Regions from separate parts of the Homo sapiens genome. Here all the other regions are linked to region 1. The links come from fine-mapping of genetic effects on gene expression. A gene starts in region 1. Each other region holds a variant in brackets. All regions are shown on one strand. Distances are between the middles of the regions. Region 1 holds the start of TOMM70 (translocase of outer mitochondrial membrane 70). Region 2 overlaps TOMM70 (translocase of outer mitochondrial membrane 70). Region 3 has its middle 13 kb from the start of TMEM45A. Region 4 overlaps CMSS1 (cms1 ribosomal small subunit homolog).

The links. PIP is the estimated chance that this variant, and not a neighbour inherited with it, causes the effect.
Region 2: its variant is fine-mapped to the expression of TOMM70 in thyroid (GTEx, PIP 0.95).
Region 3: its variant is fine-mapped to the expression of TOMM70 in subcutaneous fat (TwinsUK, PIP 0.95).
Region 4: its variant is fine-mapped to the expression of TOMM70 in monocytes after LPS (Quach 2016, PIP 0.95).

What each region holds. Positions count from the first base shown.
Region 1 is chr3:100,399,799-100,402,484 of GRCh38, forward strand. It overlaps TOMM70 (translocase of outer mitochondrial membrane 70), which reads right to left and starts at 1,291. Exons shown (of 12, transcript NM_014820.5): 1 at 828-1,291. The coding sequence starts at 1,151. It overlaps LNP1 (leukemia NUP98 fusion partner 1), which reads left to right and starts at 1,741. Exons shown (of 4, transcript NM_001085451.2): 1 at 1,741-2,641. RefSeq lists enhancers at 1-628, 1,310-1,419, 1,470-1,519, 1,530-1,619 and silencers at 990-1,069, 1,680-1,759.
Region 2 is chr3:100,364,261-100,366,946 of GRCh38, forward strand. TOMM70 (translocase of outer mitochondrial membrane 70) reads right to left here. Exons shown (of 12, transcript NM_014820.5): 12 at 1-1,457. The coding sequence ends at 1,304. Among named protein-coding and RNA genes, the nearest start is that of NIT2, 31 kb to the left of the region's middle. The variant C/G (reference allele first, on the strand shown) is at 1,099.
Region 3 is chr3:100,477,860-100,480,545 of GRCh38, forward strand. No RefSeq gene overlaps it. Among named protein-coding and RNA genes, the nearest start is that of TMEM45A, 13 kb to the right of the region's middle. The variant G/A (reference allele first, on the strand shown) is at 1,260.
Region 4 is chr3:99,936,785-99,939,470 of GRCh38, forward strand. The region is part of intron 1 of CMSS1 (cms1 ribosomal small subunit homolog); the gene reads left to right. All of the region lies in intron 1 of FILIP1L (filamin A interacting protein 1 like), which reads right to left. The region is part of intron 1 of LOC105374010 (a long non-coding RNA gene); the gene reads left to right. Among named protein-coding and RNA genes, the nearest start is that of MIR3921, 26 kb to the right of the region's middle. The variant TGC/T (reference allele first, on the strand shown) is at 1,290.

The DNA.
Region 1 (2,686 bases):
ACCAAGCCTGGTGAGCATTGCTGTGGCCGCTACTCTTGTGCAGCAAGAGGGGACAGTGCAGTGCAGAGCGTTTTCTGACAAAGGCCAAGGGGTCCGGAGTGCAAAAGGACACCTTGGGGCTGGGGCATGGCAGGAGAGGTTACGGGCGCTGAGTGCTTGCAGCCAAGGGGGCTTCGGGGTTGCTGAGAGAGGACGAGCCTTGGGAGCTTGACAGTTCTGCTTACAGTTCAGAGGCTGTAAAACAAATGCCACTGAACACCATTTCACTCTTTAGAACCTGTGTAGTCTTTCTTTTTCTATGTAGAAAGCCATCTAATCGTTTTTGTTTTTGTTTTGCTTTTGTCAACTAACCGTCACTGTAGTTGCCCACTTACCCCCAGCAAAAACACACTCCAAAAGGGGGAGTGGCTCATTATTAAAAGGCTCTTAGCGATTAGGTTGTAGGCTTTGGAAATCACAGAAACAGTTCGTATCACGATGTACCAATTGTTAATCGAATTTAGCTTCCTTCACTTATTAAATACAATCATCACATTTGCAAATGCCCCACTCCCATCTACAACACTAGGGATAAATGCTGTGTCACTGAGAAGAAAAGCAAAGGATTTTTCTGAAACCAAAAGCAAACTGTCAAAGAATGCCAGTAACCTGTCATCGAGCTACTCTATGCCCTCCACTGGCAGCCAGAAATGAGTCTCCCTAAACCCAAGTGTTGTGCTGCCGCTTGGCAGCTTCCGTCTGATGGGAAGCCCCCTCACTGACACAACCCGCCAAGGAAAAGCTGCACGAGCCAGTTTCCTCCTCTACGGCCTGGGGCTGCTTCTCACCATGTCCAAGTGAGCACCGGGACCTTCAGGGTGTCCGCTGCCCGGGGCCGGACTGGCCCTGCCCTCCGGGGTCTTCCGTTCGCTGTTGCGCTTCAGGCCGCTGGCGTCGCCCCGGCCTCTGGCCTCCCGGCGCCGTTGCTGCCGACTCCACAGGTATATGGCACCCGCGCCCAGCAGCAGGGGTGCCCCGACCGCCAGAGCCAGCTGCCATCGCGGCAGCCCCCCCGTGCCCGGGCCCGCAGTCCCGCCGCCGCCCACCCCACTCCCGGAGCTCGGTACAGCGGCTGCGACCACCGCTGCCTCCACAGGTTTAGAGGCGGCCATGACAAGTGTCCTCTGCCACCGCCTCCCTGTCTGTCGCGAGCGCCACAATCACCAAACAGCGTGCGAAGGAAGACCGAGGGAGGGAAGGAAAGCAATGAGCGAGCGAGCACGCTAGGCAGAGAGAGCGGACGACAGAAAAGGGCCAGAGGTCACCGGAAGCCCAGGGCATGCCGGGCCAGACCTGGCCGTCCTTCTCCTCCAGTATCAACCGAAGAGGGAGAGGAGGGGCGGAAATCACTTCCGGGTTAAGGGAAAGCGTGGGTGTGAGTAGGAGTCTTCGGAAACCCTTTTTCTTTCTTTTCGCCCCGCTGCTGTTCGGGAGATGGACTTCTGGAGTCCCCGTCGTAGCTGGTGTTGTCCCCTCTACCTTCAGGAAAGAAGGGCAGATGGCCCTCTTGCCTACTGAAGCCGAGGAGGGGCGCGTATACAGCGGGCTAAGGGCGCTCAAGAGATCCGAGTGGAAGAAAAAGCAGCGGCACAGCACTGGAATGGGCGGGAGTGGCAGAAGAGTTGTGAAGGCTATTGGCTAGCAAGGGTGGTGGGCGGGGCGTAGACCGAGCTACCCAGTTTACTGGTCGATTTCGGATCCAGTTTTCCAGTTATAGCCACGTTGGCACCTCTTGAACCTCTGTGGCCGTTAGCACGGTTTTCTGCCCGCGTGCCCGAGAAACCAACGGATTAGAAGGACTTTTAAAGATGTGTGAGGAAAGAGCTCACCGCTGAAGAAGGCTGCTGCATCACTGAACTTCTTATCACTAACATAGCGAGATTTTAGTTTGGACGAATTTGAGGTTATAGGGGAGATAGCGATGGCAGAAGACTAGGTGGAAATGGCACATCTAGGTTGGCTGCAGTCGAAACGGTTTGAGCGTGGTCGCTGTGGCTCATCGTCGGCACCAATTAACGAAGCGATGACATCTGCGTTGTTAGGGGTTTCTTAAACTGAGTTGGTAGAAATGCGAAGCGTCAGGGTTCCCGCCGGCTTCGAGCCTTTCTTGGCGTATTTGTATCTTGAGCTGATTTCTGCGTCAGCCCACATCTCGCTCTGATCCGCACGCCCCCCGGGTTGTTTTGCAGTAGCAGTCTCAGCCCTCTTCTCGTCTCATTCCCAAATCGTAATTTCAGTTCACAGCTTTTTATCTATAATAGCTTTATCAACTCTTTTTCCGATGCTCTGCACCAGATCTCTTAAAATATAAAATTACCTTGCAAGGTATTGTTTGGAATACACGGTATTTTCATGAAGACAACTATTAATAGAAAAATCAGAGTCCAGAACTATGGTTCTCCATTTCTGGTATACTGGTTTGCAGAAGCCTTACATTAAGATTTCATAAATGATTGTTTTGCTGTTAAGTGCAACAACATCACAGTAGAGCTACATAAAGATTGAAAGGAGATATTTTATCAAGTGGCACCAGAATGGACTGATTAAAATAGAATGGCCTAATTGGAAAGAATTTCAGGATCACCGGTTTCTCCTGCTTCATGTAAGTTCCTATTAGTAAATTGCCTTCAGGCAATAGGGTTTCTTA
Region 2 (2,686 bases), 36 kb before region 1:
TCCTTAGAGATCAAGGTTAGCTCACTACAAAAAGCACTCTACATGTCCTCAGCATCTTCAAAAATAAGTGGCTCAAAATTCCTTAAGCACATGTAGCCATAGTTAAAGCACTAAACTTGTTATTTCAGGAAATACTATGCTCTGGCTCCAAGTCTTACATCCTTTTTGACCCTTTAGCCACATGTCCTTCACGAGAAATTTTAAGCTATTTTAATACTCCCATATATCACACTTACTCTACCTTTATTTGGGTTTTACATACAAGCAATCTGCACTTTGATTTTAAAAAAGTTCTAAAATTTTTTAAAGGATGGGGTCTTGCTATATTGCCCAGGCTGGAGTGCAGTGGCTATTCGCAGGTGCAATCATCATGGCACATTACAGCCTCGAGCTCCTGGTCTCAAGCCTCTTGCCTCAGCCTCCCTAGTAGCTGAGACTATAAATAGTATATACAGTGCCACTGTACCCTCTATCCTACATTTTTAAAAGCTCACCATTAAATAGTACTAATTATTATAGAAAATAGTCACAGACAATTATAAACACACTACTGTTTCATCTTACCTCTTTGTCTGGTCCACTCCCCCATCAATACTCAGTCTTCCAACACATATATCAATTAGAATATTTTGCATCTGCATAATTTACTGCAAGAAAATCTGCTGTTGTGGACTTTAAGAAGAATGTACACTATCCATTAGAGTGGAAAGGGGCCAAGAGGATTAATAAGTGCCACCAAGTTTCTAAAACTGCAGAATCAGAGGCATTGTGCATGCTGACAATGGTTTAAAGGGTCTCTCAATTTTACTTTAATCCCCCATTTAACCTTTGTTTCTTTCAAAAAATCAACTGAAAGCGGTTAACTGAATATAAATCTATTTTACAGCATTTACTACGTTAATTTAAAAATCAACATGCTGTAAAATACTTACATTATTCACACATATATAGACGGAATCATCCAGAACATAATCAACTGCCAACCCCCCTTAAAAAAAAAATCAACAAATCAGTTTTTATTTGCATGGCCAATTATCATTTGTACTCTTTGCAACTTTATTTAAAAATCCCTTTAACATGTTCTAATCTTTTGTTGCA[C/G]AGGGAATAAAAGCTGCAAGACTGCAAACTTCCTTCAACAGCCACACCCACAACACCTAGACATGAAACAGATGTAACAAATAACAACACCACAAACAGAAATACTGATTTCCACCATTCAACACAGTTCATGACAGTGTCTTTAGGGTTCAGTTGAAGAGGGGGTAAACTTTTAAAAAGAGGGTCAGTCTGCTTTCCCCCTGTTTTATAATGTTGGTGGTTTTAATCCGTATTTCTTTGCAACTTCTGTCTGGGCATGGGCGGCATCGCAAAGTGAATACAGATGGGCCATCTCCATTTCCGATTTGGCCAGGTTAATAGCTTTGTTGAACATGTCAATGGCTTTCTCCATGTTTCCTCTAAAAGAACAAAATTTTTAAGTCTCAGATTCAACAAGCACTTCACAATATTCAATGAAGGTTGTAAGTGATGGTACATGAAGTCTGACCACTAAGTTTCTTCACAATATTCAATGAAGGTTGTAAGTGATGCTACATGAAGTCTGACCACTAAGTTTCTACTATGATTCTAGTAAAATGCTTCTTTTAAAATAAACAAGAGTACCTACCACATTGAAAGCACTCAATGAATGTCAACTACTATTACAAATACTATGTGCTTACATTATATCCCTTGTATTCTGTGTTTACTGATAAGAACAGTCAGACTAGGGAAATTGATTGGCTTATTTAAAATCACAATTCCGTCTGGTTCCTAAATTTTACATGTTTCTACTGTTAACATGAGACTCCTTTAGAAAGCAGTGACATAATACCGGGACACTAATGACATGCAAGGGCCTTACCTTCACAGACTGATGTGGGCCCACCTCTTTCTGTTTCATCTCTTACCAGCACATCCCCAACCCCATGCATCTCTACTCTTCAGGCAGTCTATGTGAGTTCCTCACACCTACTCAATAAATACTCAGATTTATTGCCTCTGCCTGATTCTGGTCAAATCCACAGCTATCTAAGAACCAACTGTTTTAAGTAACTAGTATTAGCTACATATATATGCAATCCTACAAAGAATATTAAGTCCCTACTATATATATATATACCTGCATATACAGAGTCTAACTGGCATACATGTTAGTAAGGTACATTTTATTGGCATATGTGCCAGTTAGACTTTATATGCCAGTAAGAGGTACCACTAGGGTGACTATATTTAATCCCCCATTATAATATATGGCAACGTGATAGGCTTATTTTTAAAAAAAACTTTTTTCAAGAGTTCATGTTCTGGCATTAGGCCAACAGCTAGCAGATCTGCAAAATCCTAGGATAATCTGCAATTTCATTTATTCAAATTCACTTATTTAATTGTAAGGTTCAGAATGGATTTTTTCAAAGTTCAATTAACGTGAACAAAATTCCATCAAACCCTATCAGAGGTCTTTAGTTAACCCAGGATCTATGAAAGCCTTGAATTAAAAGCAAAGTGTTTTTGTGTGCATTATTCTAAGAAGAATCCACAGCTTCGCTCAAAAAAGATTAAGAACTACCACCCTATCCTATTCTAGTACAAGAATATTTTATTCACATTAACAAATTAGCAATTAAGAAATAATTTAGGCTGGGTG
Region 3 (2,686 bases), 78 kb after region 1:
GCTGACCCCCCCACCTCCCTCCCGGATGGGGCGGCTGGCCGGGTCGGGGGCTGACCCCCCACCTCCCTCCCGGACGGGGAGGCTCGCCGGGTGGGGGGCTGACTCCCCCACCTCCCTCCCAGACTGGGCGGCTGGCCGGGCAGAGGGGCTCCTCACTTCCCAGTAGGGGCGGCCGGGCAGAGGCACCCCTCACCTCCCAGACGGGGTGGCTGGCCGGGTGGGGGCTGACCCCCACCTCCCTTCCGGACGGGGTGGCTGCCAGGCGGAGGGGCTCCTCACTTCTCAGACGGGGCGGTTGCCAGGTGGAGGGTCTCCTCACTTCTCAGACGGGGCGGCCGGGCAGAGACGCTCCTCACCTCCCAGACCGGGCGGTGGGGCAGAGGCGCTCCCCACATCTCAGACGATGGGCGGCCGGGCAGAGACGCTCCTCACTTCCTAGATGGGATGGCGGCCAGGCAGAGATGCTCCTCACTTTCCAGACTGGGCAGCCAGGCCGAGGGGCTCCTCACATCCCAGACGATGGGTGGCCAGGCAGAGACGCTCCTCACTTCCTAGATGGGATGGTGGCCGGGAAGAGGCGCTCCTCACTTCCTAGGTGGGATGGCGGCCAGGCAGAGATGCTCCTCACTTTCCAGACTGGGCAGCCAGGCCGAGGGGCTCCTCACATCCCAGACGATGGGCGGCCAGGCAGAGACGCTCCTCACTTCCCAGACGGGGTAGCGGCCGGGCAGAGGCTGCAATCTTGGCACTTTGGGGGGCCAAGGCAGGTGGCTGGGAGGTGGAGGTTGTAGCCGAGATCACGCCACTGCACTCCAGCCTGGGCACCATTGAGCACTGAGTTAACGAGACTCTGTCTGCAATCCCGGCACCTCGGGAGGCCGAGGCTGGCGGATCATTCGCAGTTAGGAGCTGGAGACCAGCCTGGCCAACACAGCGAAACCCCGTCTCCACCAAAAAAATACGAAAACCAGTCAGGCGTGGCGGCGCGTGCCTGCAATCGCAGGCACTCTGCAGGCTGAGGCCGGAGAATCAGGCAGGGAGGTTGCAGTGAGCCGAGACGGCAGCAGCACCGTCCAGCTTCGGCTCGGCATGAGAGGGAGACCGTGGAAAGAGAGGGAGAGGGAGAGGGGGGAGAGGGAGAGGGAGAGGGAGAGGGAGAGGGAGAGGGAGAGCGAGAGCGAGAGCGTATCTTTGTAGTGCTCTCTGTATTTCCTAAATTTGAATGTTGGCCTACCTTGCTAGGTTGGGGAAGTTCTCCC[G/A]GATAATATCCTGAGGAGTGTTTTCCAACTTGGTTCCATTCTCCCCGTCACTTTCAGGTACACCAACCAAACATAGATTTGGTCTTTTTACATAATCCCATATTTCTCAGAGGCTTTGTTTGTTTCTTTTTACTCTTTTTTCTCTAATCTTGTCTTCTCACTTTGTTGCATTAATTTCATCTTCAATCACTGCTATCCTTTCTCCCACATGATCAAATTGGCTATTGAAGCTTGTGCATGCATCACAAAGTTCTCGTGGCATGTTTTTCAGCTCCATCAGGTCATTTAAGTTCTTCTCTACACTGTGTGTTCTAGTTAGCCATTCGTCTAACCTTTTATCAAGGTTTTTAGCTTCCTTGCAATGGGTTAGAACATGCTCCTTTAACTTGGAGAAATTTGTTGTTACTGACCTTCTGAAGCCTACTTCTGTCAACTTGTCAAATTCATTCTCCATCCAGCTTTGTTCCATTGCTGGTGGGGAGCTGCGATCCTTTGGAGGATAAGAGGTGCTCTGGTTTTTAGAATTTTCAGCTTTTCTGCTCTGGTTTCTCCCCATCTTTGTGGTTTTAATCTACCTTTGGTCTTTGATGTTGTCGACCTACAGATGGGGTTTTGGTGTGGCTGTCCTTTTTGTTGATTTTGATGCTATTCCTTTCTGTTTGTTAGTTTTCCTTCTAATTGTCAGATCCCTCAGCTGCAGGTTAGTTGGAGTTTGCTGGAGGTCCACTCCAGACCCTGTTTGCCTGGGTATCACCAGCAGAAGCTGCAGAACAGCAAATACTGTAAAACAGCAAATATTGCTGCCTGATCCTTCCTCTGGAAGCTTCATCCTAGAGACACACCCACCTTTATGAGGTGTCTGTCAGCCCCTACTGGGAGGTATCTCCCAGTCAGGCTACACAGGGGTCAGGGACCCACTTGAGGAGGCAGTCTGTCAGTTCTCAGAGCTCAAACGCCATGCTGGGAGAACAACTGCTCTCTTCAGAGCTGTCAGACAGGGATGGTTAAATATGCAGAAGTTGTCTGCTGCCTTTTGTTCAGCTATGCCCTGCCCACAGAGGAGGAGTCTAGAGAAGAGGTGGTAGGCCTTGCTGAGCTGCGGTGGGCTCCACCCAGTTCGCACTTACCGGCCACTTTGCTTACCTAGTCAAGCCTCAGCAATGGCAGACACCCCTGGCCAGGCTGCAGCGTCGCAGGTCAATCTCAGACTGGTTTGCTAGCAGTAAGCAAGGCTCTGTGGGTGTGGGACCTGCTAAGCCAGGCACTGGAGGGAATCTCCTGGTTTGCAGGTTGCTAAGACCATGGGAAAAGTGCAGTATTTGGATGACAGTGTACCATTCCTCCAGATACAGTCTGTCACAGCTTCCCTTGGCTAGGAAAGGGAAATCCCCCAACCTCTTGCTTTTCCTGGGTTAGGCGATGCTTTG
Region 4 (2,686 bases), 460 kb before region 1:
GCTGTATCTACTTAGCTTTTATAAAAAGATATACATAGTAAAGGAAAAATCCTGGTTTAACATTAATTTATTCAACAAACATTTATGAAATGAAGCCCTACTATGTCAAGTATTGTGCTACGCAATTTTGTTTTAACTAGCTTATTTTCTTTTCTTTCTTTTCTTTTTTTGAGACGGAGTTTTGCTCTTGTTACTCAGGCTGGAGTGCAGTGGCGTGATCTCGGGTCACTGCAACCTCTGCCTCCAGAGTTCAAGCAATTTTCCTGCCTCAGCCTCCCAAGTAGCTGGGATTACAGGCGCCTGCCATCATGTGGCTAATTTTTTTGTATTTTTAGTAGAGATGGAGTTTCACCATGTTGGCCAGGCTGGTCTCGAACTCCTGACCACAGGTGATCCACCCGCCTCAGCCTCCCAAAGTGCTGGGATTACAGGTATGAGCCACCATGCCCAGCCTAGCTTATTTTCATATGTGGACCAATCTCCAATTTGTTGAATTCTGAGTATCCAAAATTATACAAAAATGTGAGTAACATAAATTCACAAACCCCTAGCCTTTGAGTCTATTCAATAAAGATGTTCTGTTTTCATATATTGTTTATGTGCAAAAACTATGTATTTTTAAATTTTCATGTGCTTTTCTCAACCACTGCTGTCATATTGAAGTGGCAGGAGACATGTCTTAATAGAAAGAGTATGAGATTGTGGAATCAAATAGAACTGGTCTTAAATCACAGCTCCAACATGTTAGCTCTGTGGCCTTGGGCGTCAGTGAGCCTTTAAATGTAAAATGGAGATAATGGTACTTGCTAATGGGTTTATTATTCATATTTGGTTAGCACAGGGCCCCTGTTGTTAATGTGTGTATCCCCATGTCCTACAGAGTTGGACCTCAGCAGGGATTTATTGAGTGATTGAATCATGCAGTCCTCAGCAGAGCTGGTTGGCTCTGAATAGGAGCTGCCTCATGGTAAAGATGATTCATTTGCAAACCACTGGCTAGAAATTAGAAAAAGGGTACTGAGAATCTACTGAAGTAGCTGTGTATAGACCTCTTACCACATGCCAGGCACTGTTTTAAGTGCTTCAGTTCATTTATCTTATTTATCTTAAAGAATTTTAGCCTGAAGTAAATGAAAAAAACAGAAAACCTGTAGGAAGGGAGTTGGTAAAGGTGAATTAAGGTGGAGACTCTCATAAGAGATAGCAAAGACAAATAAATTAATATCAATTTCAGGGCAGCACTGGTGCCTGCAAAAGGCTCAGGAAGTGTGTGTGTGTGTGTGTGTGTG[TGC/T]GCGCGCGCGCGCGCGTGCATGCACACTCGTGCTGGGTGGGGAAGAAATGTTAGATCCACGTAACTTACTGGAAATCTCCATTTAATTTCACTGAATTTTGTAAACTTTCGATCATAAATACCCTGATCTGCTATCCCTCACCCCCAGCCCTCTCACAGACACCCTCACATGCATGAAATGAACTGAGTATGCACTACACTATTTTTTAATTTGACAGCACCATTAACCATCATTAGTTCTGTTTTTAAGCATGTAACATTTTATTAAGGCAGTCATTTAAACTTAGTGTAGTGGGAAATTTTAGACATAAATTGTTTGTTTTGATGGCAAGAAGACTGCATAACACGGAGTGAGTCTGTGCTAACTGTACGACACTCATGGCCAAGGAACAAAGCTGGGAGTGATCCAAGGCTTTAAATTTGAATATATTTAACACCCCATACTTTGCTGAGTTTAGAGGGCAGACTGTCTGCTATCTTTACATTTGCACTTGCATTTCCCCCTATCTTTACACAGAACCTTTAAGCTAAGATTTAGTTCCCTGAAAGAATGGAAAGAGATGTATTAAGATTATGGGGTTCTCAGCAGAGCTGGTTGGCCCCTTTAATATTAACTGACTTATGGTAAATGTGATTCATCTATGAAAATAGTGGCTATAAATAGATGTTAATAGCGCTCAGTTGCAGAACAGCCAGGTTGTGCTCACATGGCCAGATTAGGGGAAAAAATCCTGTTGGGTATTTTATGTGGTCTTTCAAAAAAAAAAAGTTTCCTTTTATTGCCCTACTCACCCACATTTGAAGACACTAAACTCAGCCAGCTGCAGTAAAGCTATCTGATGGCTAAAAAAAGACAATTGAAAACAAGATAACCTAATTTAGTAATTGGCCTCCGTTATCTTTTTTCTCCCATTTTCAGTAAAAATCATTGAAACATTTTCTTAGTGATATTTTTCCTTGTAGGGCATAGACAAGTCTTTAGACAAGGGATTGGAAAGTGGGGATGTATGATTCAGGTTCATATTCCCAAGGATTCTAAGTCCTAAGAGAAAGTCAAAGCCACAGAGAGAAAATCAAATAAGAGCTTCAGAAGGTGGTGCAGTAGTCTCTCATCCATCACCCATAGTATCAGGCACTTAGTATTTTCCATCATCACCTGCTCACTTGTTATATGCCTGTGAGTGTCCAAAAGTGCTTCCTTGTTGTGAGCTGAAATCCAGCTCCCAGGAACTTTAGTTCGTGTATCCTGGTTCTGCCTCCAGAACTAAAGCAAGCCAAGCTACTCTTCTTGCCACAGTGTAGTCCTTTAACCGAAAGGACTCTATTCTTCTTTATTCCAAATGAAACACTCAGTTTCTTTATTCATTTCTTACACCACCTAGTTTCAGTCTCCTC